2 separate regions of the Homo sapiens genome follow, and region 2 is linked to region 1. The links come from fine-mapping of genetic effects on gene expression. A gene starts in region 1. The other region holds a variant in brackets. All regions are shown on one strand. Distances are from middle to middle. Region 1 holds the start of FOXJ2 (forkhead box J2). Region 2 overlaps FOXJ2 (forkhead box J2).

What was found.
Region 2: its variant is fine-mapped to the expression of FOXJ2 in whole blood (TOPMed, PIP above 0.99).

The regions. Positions count from the first base shown.
Region 1 is chr12:8,029,743-8,035,118 of GRCh38, reverse strand. FOXJ2 (forkhead box J2) reads right to left here and starts at 2,403. Exons shown (of 11, transcript NM_018416.3): 1 at 1,286-2,403. RefSeq lists silencers at 2,309-2,548, 2,569-2,718.
Region 2 is chr12:8,052,610-8,057,985 of GRCh38, reverse strand. FOXJ2 (forkhead box J2) reads right to left here. Exons shown (of 11, transcript NM_018416.3): 11 at 2,469-5,224. The coding sequence ends at 5,136. C3AR1 (complement C3a receptor 1) reads left to right here. Exons shown (of 2, transcript NM_004054.4): 2 at 1-1,142. Among named protein-coding and RNA genes, the nearest start is that of C3AR1, 11 kb to the left of the region's middle. The variant T/A (reference allele first, on the strand shown) is at 2,498.

The DNA of each region.
Region 1 (5,376 bases):
GTGCCCTATCTCATATACCACCAGTAGCTTCCAGGACAAATGACTGTACTCAGGAATTTAGGTAGACCTCACCCATGCCCCAGAGAGAGGAGGAAATATGAAAGGCCAAGTCAGATGAAGCCTCCTTCACAACTTGTCCTTGCTGTGAGACAGAAGATAAGGTATCTGCTAATGGTGAGGCAGGAAAGCAGACAACCAGCTAGTGACCTCTCCTAAAAACAGCCTAGGCTTCAGGGGAGGATTTCCTGGTACCCTTTTCCTGCCTTTTCTGAAGATTCTGGACTTTGATAATTCCCTAGCTTATGAAGGAAAACTTTAACACAAGGTTCGAGGGACTCAGAACTGAACAAGAAACAGGAAGGGAGAGGATGAGACTATTAGGTACTTTTCTGGAAGGAAACTTTATATACTCCTCAGAAGTGAAATCTCTCCAGTGGTCAACTTGTTTAACTGGAAGTCTGGACAGAAGCGGAGCAGCAGCCCTCCTCCCTTCGTATCCAGGATCTAATTTTTCCTGAAGAATTGTGAGCAAAAAACAGGAGTCGAGAAGGGGACTGGGGCAGTGGTTCAGGGCCAGCATCAAGGAAGCACTTTAACCCGGGAGTTGGCATTCCCCTGCACACTTTCTTCTCGCCTCAGAACATGTGGGATTCCCATTTTCCCTTTGGATTTTATGGGCAGAGGCATACATCCAGCTAGGAATGGAAATGTCAGGAGAGGAGGCCTCTTGGTATCTGAGATAGGATGAGCAGGAACAGATTGCTTTTCTTGTCAAGGGAGCTATAATTGCAGTAAGCTGGAGGGAACACCTCTGGTGAACACTAAGCTGACCTCGGCATGCCCTGGGCAAGGCCAGGACCCCAGATGCCACCGTGATTTTCATGACAGCCCACTCTCCAGGGGAAAAGGCCCAAGGGTGAAGGGTGGTATGGGAATCTTACCACTGGTTGGGTTGTGTAAATCACTGCTACACAGTATGCATGTTCTCAAAATGCAGCTGTTTTCCGATAACCCTTTTCCTCAGCATGAAAACATCCACTTCCCTAAGGGACCTAAAATGAATCCCATCCCTTTAGTCCCCAAACACTAAGAAACCCATTTCTCAGAGCTTCTGCAGCAAGATGTGGGTTCAAATCCAGGAGCTCCCTTGGATCACATTTCCCATTGGATTTTCTGAGTCATCACTCTGTCTTCCCCGGCAGTGAAACCCACGATCCACCAGCTCAACCCCCTACACCCACTAGTGCCAGACAATGACAGAGAGAAGATGAAAGAAAGCACTAACCTGTCTCCAAGGTTCCTCCGGCAAAGGGAGGGAACCACCTGGTACTGGAGTTTGGGGTTGGAGGGATTCCCCTCTTCAGAGGCAGGTGACGGCTCTCATCCTCAGTGGCTCTTCCTGGACGAGGCTGAGCCTCCCAAGTTGGTGAGGGGAACTGGGTCCCCTGAGGATGAGGAGTCAAGGTTGGAGGAGGGGGAGGGGGAGGAGAAGGAGGTCCTACTTGGGGAAGGTGGCACACCCCCCACACCCTGCTTGTTACCCGGGGGAGGAGGGGAGGAGCCTCTCCCAACCAGGAGTTGTCTCCTCCCCCTTGGGGGAGTTCCCCTCCCCCCCAAACTGGATCTTTCTGAGGTGGAGGGCTCTTTCTGTCTGCTGGAGATAGGAGCGGAGGGGCTCCACCCCGTTCCACTGTCTAGGCACGAGGAAGTTGAGGGGGAGGTCTTCCCCTCTCCAGAAGGCTGAAAGCCGATTCCTCTTCTTTCCCTGGAGTGGCTTCTGAACGTAAGGACTCCTGTCTCCTGTGAATAGTGGTGGGCCGAGGGTGCCTACTCCACAGGCACAGCCCCGTCTCTCTTTGCCTCCAAAGTCCTGAACTGTTGAGAGTGTGTGTTTGGAGGGGCGGGGGCGCGCTAGGGTGGTCTCACTCTGCTTCCCTACGGAAAGCTCCCTTCTTTCCACTTCTGGGGGTCTCCTCCCCGGCCAGTACAGGGGTCTTCCTCGCCTCTAGGCAGGAGAGAGGCGTCCCCTCCAGGGGTCTCTTCTTTCCCTCACCCGAGTGGTAAGGGTCTTTTCTCTCCAACAGGGGGAGAGGTTGCTCGCGTCCCCGCTCCCGCCTCCGCTCCCGGGGTGCCCCAGAGGGTGGGGCTTTCGTACTCCCGGCTGTCCCTGAGCTGGCCTGGGCAGCACGGTCCGGGAGGCCGCGGCTCGAGACTCCGGTCCCTGCTACTGTGGCGGCAGCACCTCCTCTAGGGCCGTCCTGTCGGGTCCGCTCCCTTCGGCGCGTGGGGCTCCCCGCGCTGCCACCGCTCGGGCTCCGACCAGTCTGGGCTCCCGGGGAGCCAGAAGGCGGGCAGACAGTGTCAGGGCTCGGCGCGGGCTCGGGCTCGGCTCGGCTCCGCTGCAGGCCCCGGCTCCTCCCCGGCCTCCGCGCCGCGCTCCGCGCCCCTCCCCCTCCCCCGCCCGCCGGCCGCTGCCGCCACCGCCTCCCGGCGCGGGTTAAGGAGGAGCCGGGAGACGCCGAGCCGCGGGCAGCGCCGAGCCGCGAGCCTCGCTACCCGGTGTGCGCTCCGCCTGGAGAGCCACGGCCGCTCTCACGCCGGCGAGGGATCTCGCCGCCCTCGCCCACCTGCGGCCGCGTGGCTCCGGGAGTTCGCCGTCTACCCGGGATGACAACTCACTGCTCCCCGTCGGGAGAGTCCCTAGTGCGCACCGTATACCGTCAATTCCAGCTGACACCCCAACTCCGGCGTTTCATTCTGTTAAACTCCGTATACAGATGAACAGCCCCAGCTTTCTCAGGACTGTCTTTGATGGGCTTCTCTTTCCCTCGAGATAATTTATAAAGGATCATGAGCATTGAGGTGAAGATTGGGGTGAAGTTTATATGTTACCCTTATATCATCCTGGAATTCAGTAAATGCTCCTTGAATGAGTGGATACATGATAAATGAGCGTGTAACGGTGAAATAAACATCAGAAGATCTGGGTCCTGTTCCTTGTTTCAGCTTCCTAAACTTGTGCATGGCCCTTGTTCTCCGCAATCTTGCTCAGCGAAGAAGGGACCTTGATACTTGGCCTGCTTACCCTTTACAGCTGTCACATCCTGAAGTCATATTATTCTGCTGCAAATTCTCATATATTTCATACTCTGGCTTTTTTTTTTTTTTTTTTTTTTTTTTTGAGGTGTTGTTTCACTTATTGCCCAGGCTGGAGTGCAATGGCACGATCTGGGCCCACTGCAACCTACGCCTCCCGGGTTCAAGCGATTCTTCTGTCTCAGCCTCCCCAGCAGCTGGGATGCCTCAGCCTCCGGAGCAGCTGGGATTACAGGCGCGCGCCACCACGCCCGGCTAATTTTTGTATTTTTAGTAGAGATGGGGTTTCACCAAGTTGGCCAGGCTGGTCTCGAACTCCTGACCTCGTGATCCACCTTCCTCGGCCTCCCAAAGTGCTGGGATTACAGGTGTGAGCCACCGCGCCCGGCCCATACTCAGGCTTTTTAAACTTTTATCAAACTACCCTACTTTCTTTCCTTTCTTTCTTTATCTTTTTCTTCTTTTTAAATAGAGGCAGGGTCTCAGTATGCTGCCGAGGCTGGTCTTTAATTCCTGGGTTTAAACTATTCTCCCTTTTTATGCCTCCAAAGTGCTGGGATTACAGGCAGGAAACACGGCCCGGCCTACTCTCTACTTTATAGCACATAAGATAATAGGAGGCCAGGCGCAGTGGCTCACGCCCGTAATCCCAAAGCTTTGGGAGGCCGAGGCGGGGGGATCACTTGAAGTCAGGAATTGGAGACCAGCCTGGCCAACGTGGTGAAACCCCTGTCTCTACTAAAAATACAAAAATTAGCCCGGCGCGGTGGCGGACGCCTGTAGTGCCGGCTAAGGCAGGAGAATCGCTTGAACCCGGAAAGCGGTGGTTGCAGTGAGCCGAGACCGCGCCACTCCACTCCAGCCTGGGCGACAGAGCCAGGTTCCGTCTAAAAAAAAAAAAAAAAAAAAAGAATTAGCCAGGCGTGGTAGTGCGTGCCTGTAATCCCAGCTACCTGGGAGGCTGAGGCAGGAGAATCACTTGAAACTGGGAGACGGAGGTTGCAGTAAGCCCAGATCGTGCCGCTGCACTCCAGCCTGGGAGACAGTGAGACACCGTCTCAAAAAAAAAAAAAAAAAAAGATAATACGAATACAAAAATATTGCTTGCAAAATATTTGAATTGCCCCCAAAAGACTGCATACTTAAGTTGTATGTATATATTATATGAATAATTATATTTACAATATGCCAGGCATTGCACTGAGCATTCTGCATGTGTTGTCACATTGATGATTCTAGCGATTCCCTAAGACACTATTATTATACTTCTTTTACAGATGAGAAAATTGTGACTTACAGATACTATGTGTGAGTTCGCTTAATTAGTAAGTAGCAGAGTCAGGACTTAAATCCAAATGACTCCGATGCCCAGCTCTTGACTTCTATACCATTGTCCGGAGCGATCAGAATTTAAAGTCATCCTCAAAATTAAAGGCAGTAAACCAAAACAAGCCTGTTCTTCCTGCTCACACTTCCTATATTCAGGTTTAAAGATGTATTTTTCCTCTCTTTGAGGCATTAAATAATTCTCCCACACGCAGATAATTTGGCGGCAAATCTTTCTTGCTATGTATTAGATGTTTTGTTATGTTTCAACCGTTTTTGACATTTCCTGTGTATGGAAATTGGAGGGCTTGAGTGACAGGCAGTTGTACTAAAAATGGAAACATGAGGGAAGGATTAGAATCTTCCTGGCAATTTGGAAAAATAAAAAGCTCAAGAAATTATTTGGTTTTTACAAGACATTTGCTGCAGTATTTTTTGTAACTGGAAAATTAGAAAAGACCTAAATATCCAAAATAGGGTAATTTTAAATATATTATGGCACATCTGTACAACAGAGTACTATTTAGCATTTGCAAGAATAATTGTATTTATCTCTGAAAGGTAGAGTGAGTGGAGTTGTTTTATTTTTATAATGTTCTTTATCATTTAGATATTTTGCAGTAGGCATACATTATTTTAAAGAACCATTGTTTTATATATCTGACTTATTTGAGTGAGAAAATAATATTTTAAAATTTGTATAATGCAATCATATAGTTGCTTTTTAAAATATATATATGTTCATGCATATATTTGTGTGCATACCAATAGACACATAGAAGATGGATACACACCAAAGATGTGAGTTTATGGATTATTTTAATTTACTTCATTTTTTAATGTATCTATAATTAGTGTTTGTGTAGATTTGCTTATGTAATTTTTAAAATTAAAAGAAACTGACAAGGCTGGTTTGGTATGGTTTTGCCCTAAGATTGGGGGGAAGCACTTACA
Region 2 (5,376 bases), 23 kb before region 1:
TTCTAACTGCCTACCGGTTGGGCACCTATTTTCCACTCCTCTTCCTAAGCTCCTTAATTTCCTTATTACTCCCCAGCCTCCAAATCTTCCACATCAGACTTTGTGCCTCAAACAACCTCTAATTTCGTAAGATTCTAGTTACTCCCTTCCTCTTGCTCCAAATGAATACTTTCTAAGAAAGTATTTCAAGTGGAAGGAGAAAGAGGGTGGAGGATGGAGCAGCAATTCTTCTACTCTCTGCAACTGAGTACCCTACCAGGCTTGCCATCACATTTTAAAACATGACGACAGGCAACTTACATGCCAAAATTACCAAATATATCTTCTGGGTTTTTTAAATCCTTTTCTTTGCCAAAGTAATACATGCACATAGTTTTAAAATAATTTAATAAGGTATATAATGAAATATGAGGTCTCCTACCTCACTGTGCCCAAAAGTTCCCTCCTCCCACTCTCATTTCCCAGAGATAATCCTTGCACAATTTTAGATGTTTCCTTTGATAATTATCATGATGTTTCTAAATCATGTGCTTATGCTGCTCTTTTCTGGAGGCATGATAAAACGACTTCTTGTTTTGAAAGATGAAGATGTTTATCCAAGCACCCCATATTTTTAATTTGTTTATCCAGCATCCCAACATTCATTAATAACCATATTTTAATTCATTCATGACCACATATTTTTCTTCTACTTTGTCTATACACTCCAACCATTTATATAGCTTTCCTTCTGTCCCTTTTTCATTTAAAACAAAATTACCTAACTCCCTACCACCTTCTCATTTTTCTGTATATATAAATGTTTGTGTCAAACGTCTGAAATTTCTGGCTTGTTTGTATCACAACGTGGCCTCATCTAAACCAAATACAATGATGTAGTCTAAAAACAGAAAATGACATGTGTTTTAGACCTGCAAGACACTATCTGTTCAATGGCTGAGGTGAGGGTCTGGACTACAGATTTTTTATAAAGTATATGCAGAAAAATTACAAATCACTAGGAATTCTTTCAGTTGTGAAGAATGTCTGACATAAGATTTGAAGTGCTACCTTTCCAGCTTATATATTAATTTGCTTATATATTTGATATGAATAAATGCTTTTTTTCTCATGGGTCCTTGCGAGGCTCAGAGATTTATGAATCCTTTTGTTTCACATTCAGAATATATCACATCTCTAAATATGCAGCAAATAAGTCTCCTAGTGAGTGACTATAGACTTGCTATAATAGCAATTAGCCAGGCTTCCAGAAACCCCAGCACATCCCATAAGACCCTGGGAATAAGACCTAAACTCCTGGGGTTAGTGTATAGGATATCAAGGTGAATAATCTTGACGCAGTTATAAAGATTTAATGTACAACGAGTAATCAGCATTTCTGGACTCCTTTTCTTTTCCATTTGCTTTGGAAATGTATTCTGAAGAAATTCCTACAATTAGAGCTCCCTCATTTCTGATGAAAACCTGGTGAGTACCTGTAACTATTTTGTACTGTATCTTCTCCAGGAAGTCCCAGATGGGAACACAGCTCCTGTCCAAAGTATAATATCTTTTCTTTTTTTTTTTGAGATGAAGTATCACTCTGTAGCCCAGGCTAGAGCACAGTGGCACACTTGGCACGATCTCAGCTCACTGCAACCTCCACCTCTCGGGTTCAAGCAATTCTTCTGCCTCAGCCTCTCAAGTAGCTGGGATTACAGGCGCCTGCCACCACACCCGGCTAATTTTTGTATTTATAGTAGAGATGAGGTTTCACCATGTTGGCCAGGCTGGTCTCGAACTCCTGACCTTGTGATCTGCCCACCTCGGCCTCCCAAAGTGCTGGGATTACAGGTGTGACCCACCGCGCCCAACCAATATCTTTTCTTTTTGAGAGAGAGTTTCGTTCTTGTCACCCAGGCTGGAGTGCAACAGTGCAGTCTTGGCTTACTATAACCTCCGCCTTCCAGGTTCAAACGATTCTCCTGCCTCAGCCTCCAGAGTAGCTGGGATAACAGGCATGCACCACCACGCCCGGCTAATTTTGTGTTTTTAGTAGAGACGGGGTTTTACCATGTTGGTCAGGCTGAGCTCGAACTCCTGACCTCAGGTGATCTGCCTGCCTCGGCCTCCCAAACTGCTGGGATTATAGGCATGAGCCACCACGCCCAGCCCCAAAGTATAATATCTTAAATCTTTAAACTATCCTAAAATGCAAGCAAGGTGGGCCTACTCCATATACCAACCTACAAGGGGTGACTGACTCTCCCGCAATATGTCATCATACTTGATAGCATTTGAAAAGAGGCACGTTAAGGACGTGCCTTTGATTCTTCTTTCCCACCAAGGTCACAAAACGTGTCAGGGTCAACTAATTCAACCCAGTGGTGGAAGGTGGAAGAGGAATAAAGACGAACTGAGACTAAATTCTTTCACGTTTCTCTTTTCCTTCCCTGGCCAAAAGAAACTTGAGACCACTACCAGTAAGATAAAACTGTAAACATTCTTTTTTTTTTTT[T/A]ATTAAGAAAGCATGCAAAAAAACAATGACAACAACTTGTGAGACCATATACCCCCTTCCCAGGATGCAGCAATGCAAAGCATTATGGGTGGTGGCACAAAGGACTCACCAAACCAGAAACATGAGGAGCAGGGACTGAGGAGAGAAAGGTTGGGATGGGTGGATCTATACCAAATAATTACTCCTTTTGTCCCTCTCCTCCACTTTCTCTCTTATTTCCTCTTATAGGCAGTGAGCTTCTGCAGTTTTGCACACATCACCCAATACAACAATAATGACTACACTTTGTGTCCAGCAATGCTAGACCAACAAGAAAAAGTAGTATTCTTTTCATTTCATGAAGGGGAGGGGAAACTGAGGCCCAAAGGGAGTCAGGTTTGCCCTGTGCCACGTAGCAAGACTGGGCTTGGTGGAAGGGAGCTGGAATCTCAGGAGGCCTAATGGCCAATCTCCAGTCCCAGACCCAAACTTCAGCTACCCTGGCTGCACGCCAGAATTCTTCATGAGACTAGTTTGCAGAAGACACAGATGAACAAGGGGCATTTGCATGTATGATCCTACCCTTGCAAATCCTGTATGGATCTGAACAGGAAAAGGGTTTAGAAAAGAGAAGTGATCATTTACAAATGGGGAATATTGAGGAGAACTGATGGGAAGTTTTGTATAGGACACACCCTGACTGGAAGGAATAAGGAAGGAAAAGATGCCTAAAATAGGGACACTGGGCAAAGGCATTTTGCCACCCTCTAAGAGAAATTCTCCTTTCCCCAATGGGAAATATTATGTCATACTTCAACCCCACTAAGTGCCCTCCAACATCATGGGAGATTCAAGCCACTCGCACCCCCATTTCTTTCTTAGAAAGGCTTCAAAGAAATAAAGTGCTCTTTAGTTAACTGCCCTATCTTGCCCCTTTACTTCAGCCTCACTGGACTTCTTCAATGAACTCTCATATATAACCCCCTTCCAAAAAAAGGAAAGGGGTGGATGAAAGAAAAAAGCAGGAGAGCGGAACGCCAAACCTCTTGGAAATTATGGGTAAATAAAATAATATGCATGAAAAGCAGAAATCACAAAGAAAGTGGCCTTGTCTATTCCATACATTTTGTCCCACAGCTTTTCAGCAAGTGAAATAAGGACAGAAGTAAAATTGTTCTTCCCTCTCGTAACTAAAATTCAACAATCAACATTAAATATACACTGAGTACTTTGCAACAGTAAGTCATGGCCACCCCTTGTAAAAGAGATGAGTTAGCTCCATACCTTTTTCTGGGGGTCCCCCTTGGCCCTCACTGAACTCTTGCCTCTAGATTATTTACTCTCCTCCACCAATCTCCTTCACCCCTCAAAGCCTACTTGCAAAAGCTTCAGCCAGATGATCTGGATTCCAAGAGAAGCATCTGCCTATATATTTAAAGAACTAAAATATTCCCTATCCATTTCTTTGCCAGCTCTTTTTTCCTCTCCCCATCCTCCTACCACCAACACTAAAGGTTTGGCTCTGCTATGAGAGGTGGGAATGAGATTCCCATCATGTCTCAGGGCACGACGAAACTCAGAGTGATAATGGGTTACTTTTTCTTTCTTGAGAATCCCAGAAAATGAGGGAAGAAAAAAGATGGGTGGAAGATTTGGGCAAACAATTAAAGGAGGACAAACTAATATTTGCTGAATGGGAAAAAGGGATGGGAAGATCATTCGTAAATGCAAATAAGAGCCACAATTAATTTTCAGAGAAAATTATGTTTAAAAAGCCAAAATAGTTAAGTTGGAATCATCTCCAAGAAGCTAAAACCATGCTGAATAGTTGTCCTCATGCCCTACCATAGAAGCAGAGTTTGGGCTAAAACCAATCCTATCTTCTTAGAGAACAGGCTCAAAACAAGCCAATGGACACTGATGTAACATGGCAGTGTATACTCAGTTTCACACTGACTTATATTCCATCCCTTCCAATGGTCTCCAATTCCACTAGGATTTTATTGTCACCCTCCTGCACCACCATCATCACTTTCACCCTTGATAGGAAATACAGACTGGCAGAAGTAAGGATTGAAGGTATAAAGGGACAAGGAAGACCTCAGAGGACAGAATTAGCACCATTTTAAAACCTCCAAATTCTTGGCTGCCAAGTAATGTTTCAGACCCTTTCTACTTGGTAATGTGGCCTCTCCAGTCCTGGCCTGAAACTGATGGGAACAAAAAACAATTTAGGGCCAAAAGGTGGGATTAGCATTGAGTTTCTCCAAGAGAAAGGTAAACTGGAGTCTAAAACCTTTCTCTGTAGCTATCATGGCTTCATCTTCCAGCCTGATGATTTTAAATTAGCAAAAGGTGGACATGATCCATGATGTAGGGACAGGAGACTATGGACAGTATATAACCAATAATAATAATAATAATATAAGAATAATAATAAAAGAACTAGGAAAAAACAGGAAGGAAGAGAGAAGAATGAGGCAGGAAAGAGAGGGTTATCTTCGGCAGCATCTTGCAGTGGCTTCTCTGACAGAGAAAGAACAAAAAGAGGATATATGTCTATATACAGACGGGGGGAAGGGACGGGCTGGGGTTGCTCTTTCCCCACTGCCAGATTTCACCACGCGGCCCTGGGCTGATGTCCACACTCTGTGATGCACTAAGTGATCAAGTCCCAGTCGAAGTCATCAGGGATCTCCTCATTGGCACCAGGAGGTGGCACTGATGGCCGAGGGACCATATGGTGTGCTGTTAGAAAGAAAGAAAGAGAGTAAAAGGAGAGTGGATGGGAAGCTGTTCCCTCAATTTACAAGGACAGTGCTCAGCCCCAGATAACACCACGAAGAAGGCCTTGTGAGGCTATCGCCCTTATCAGCTGGAGTTAATTTTGGTTGCAGGTC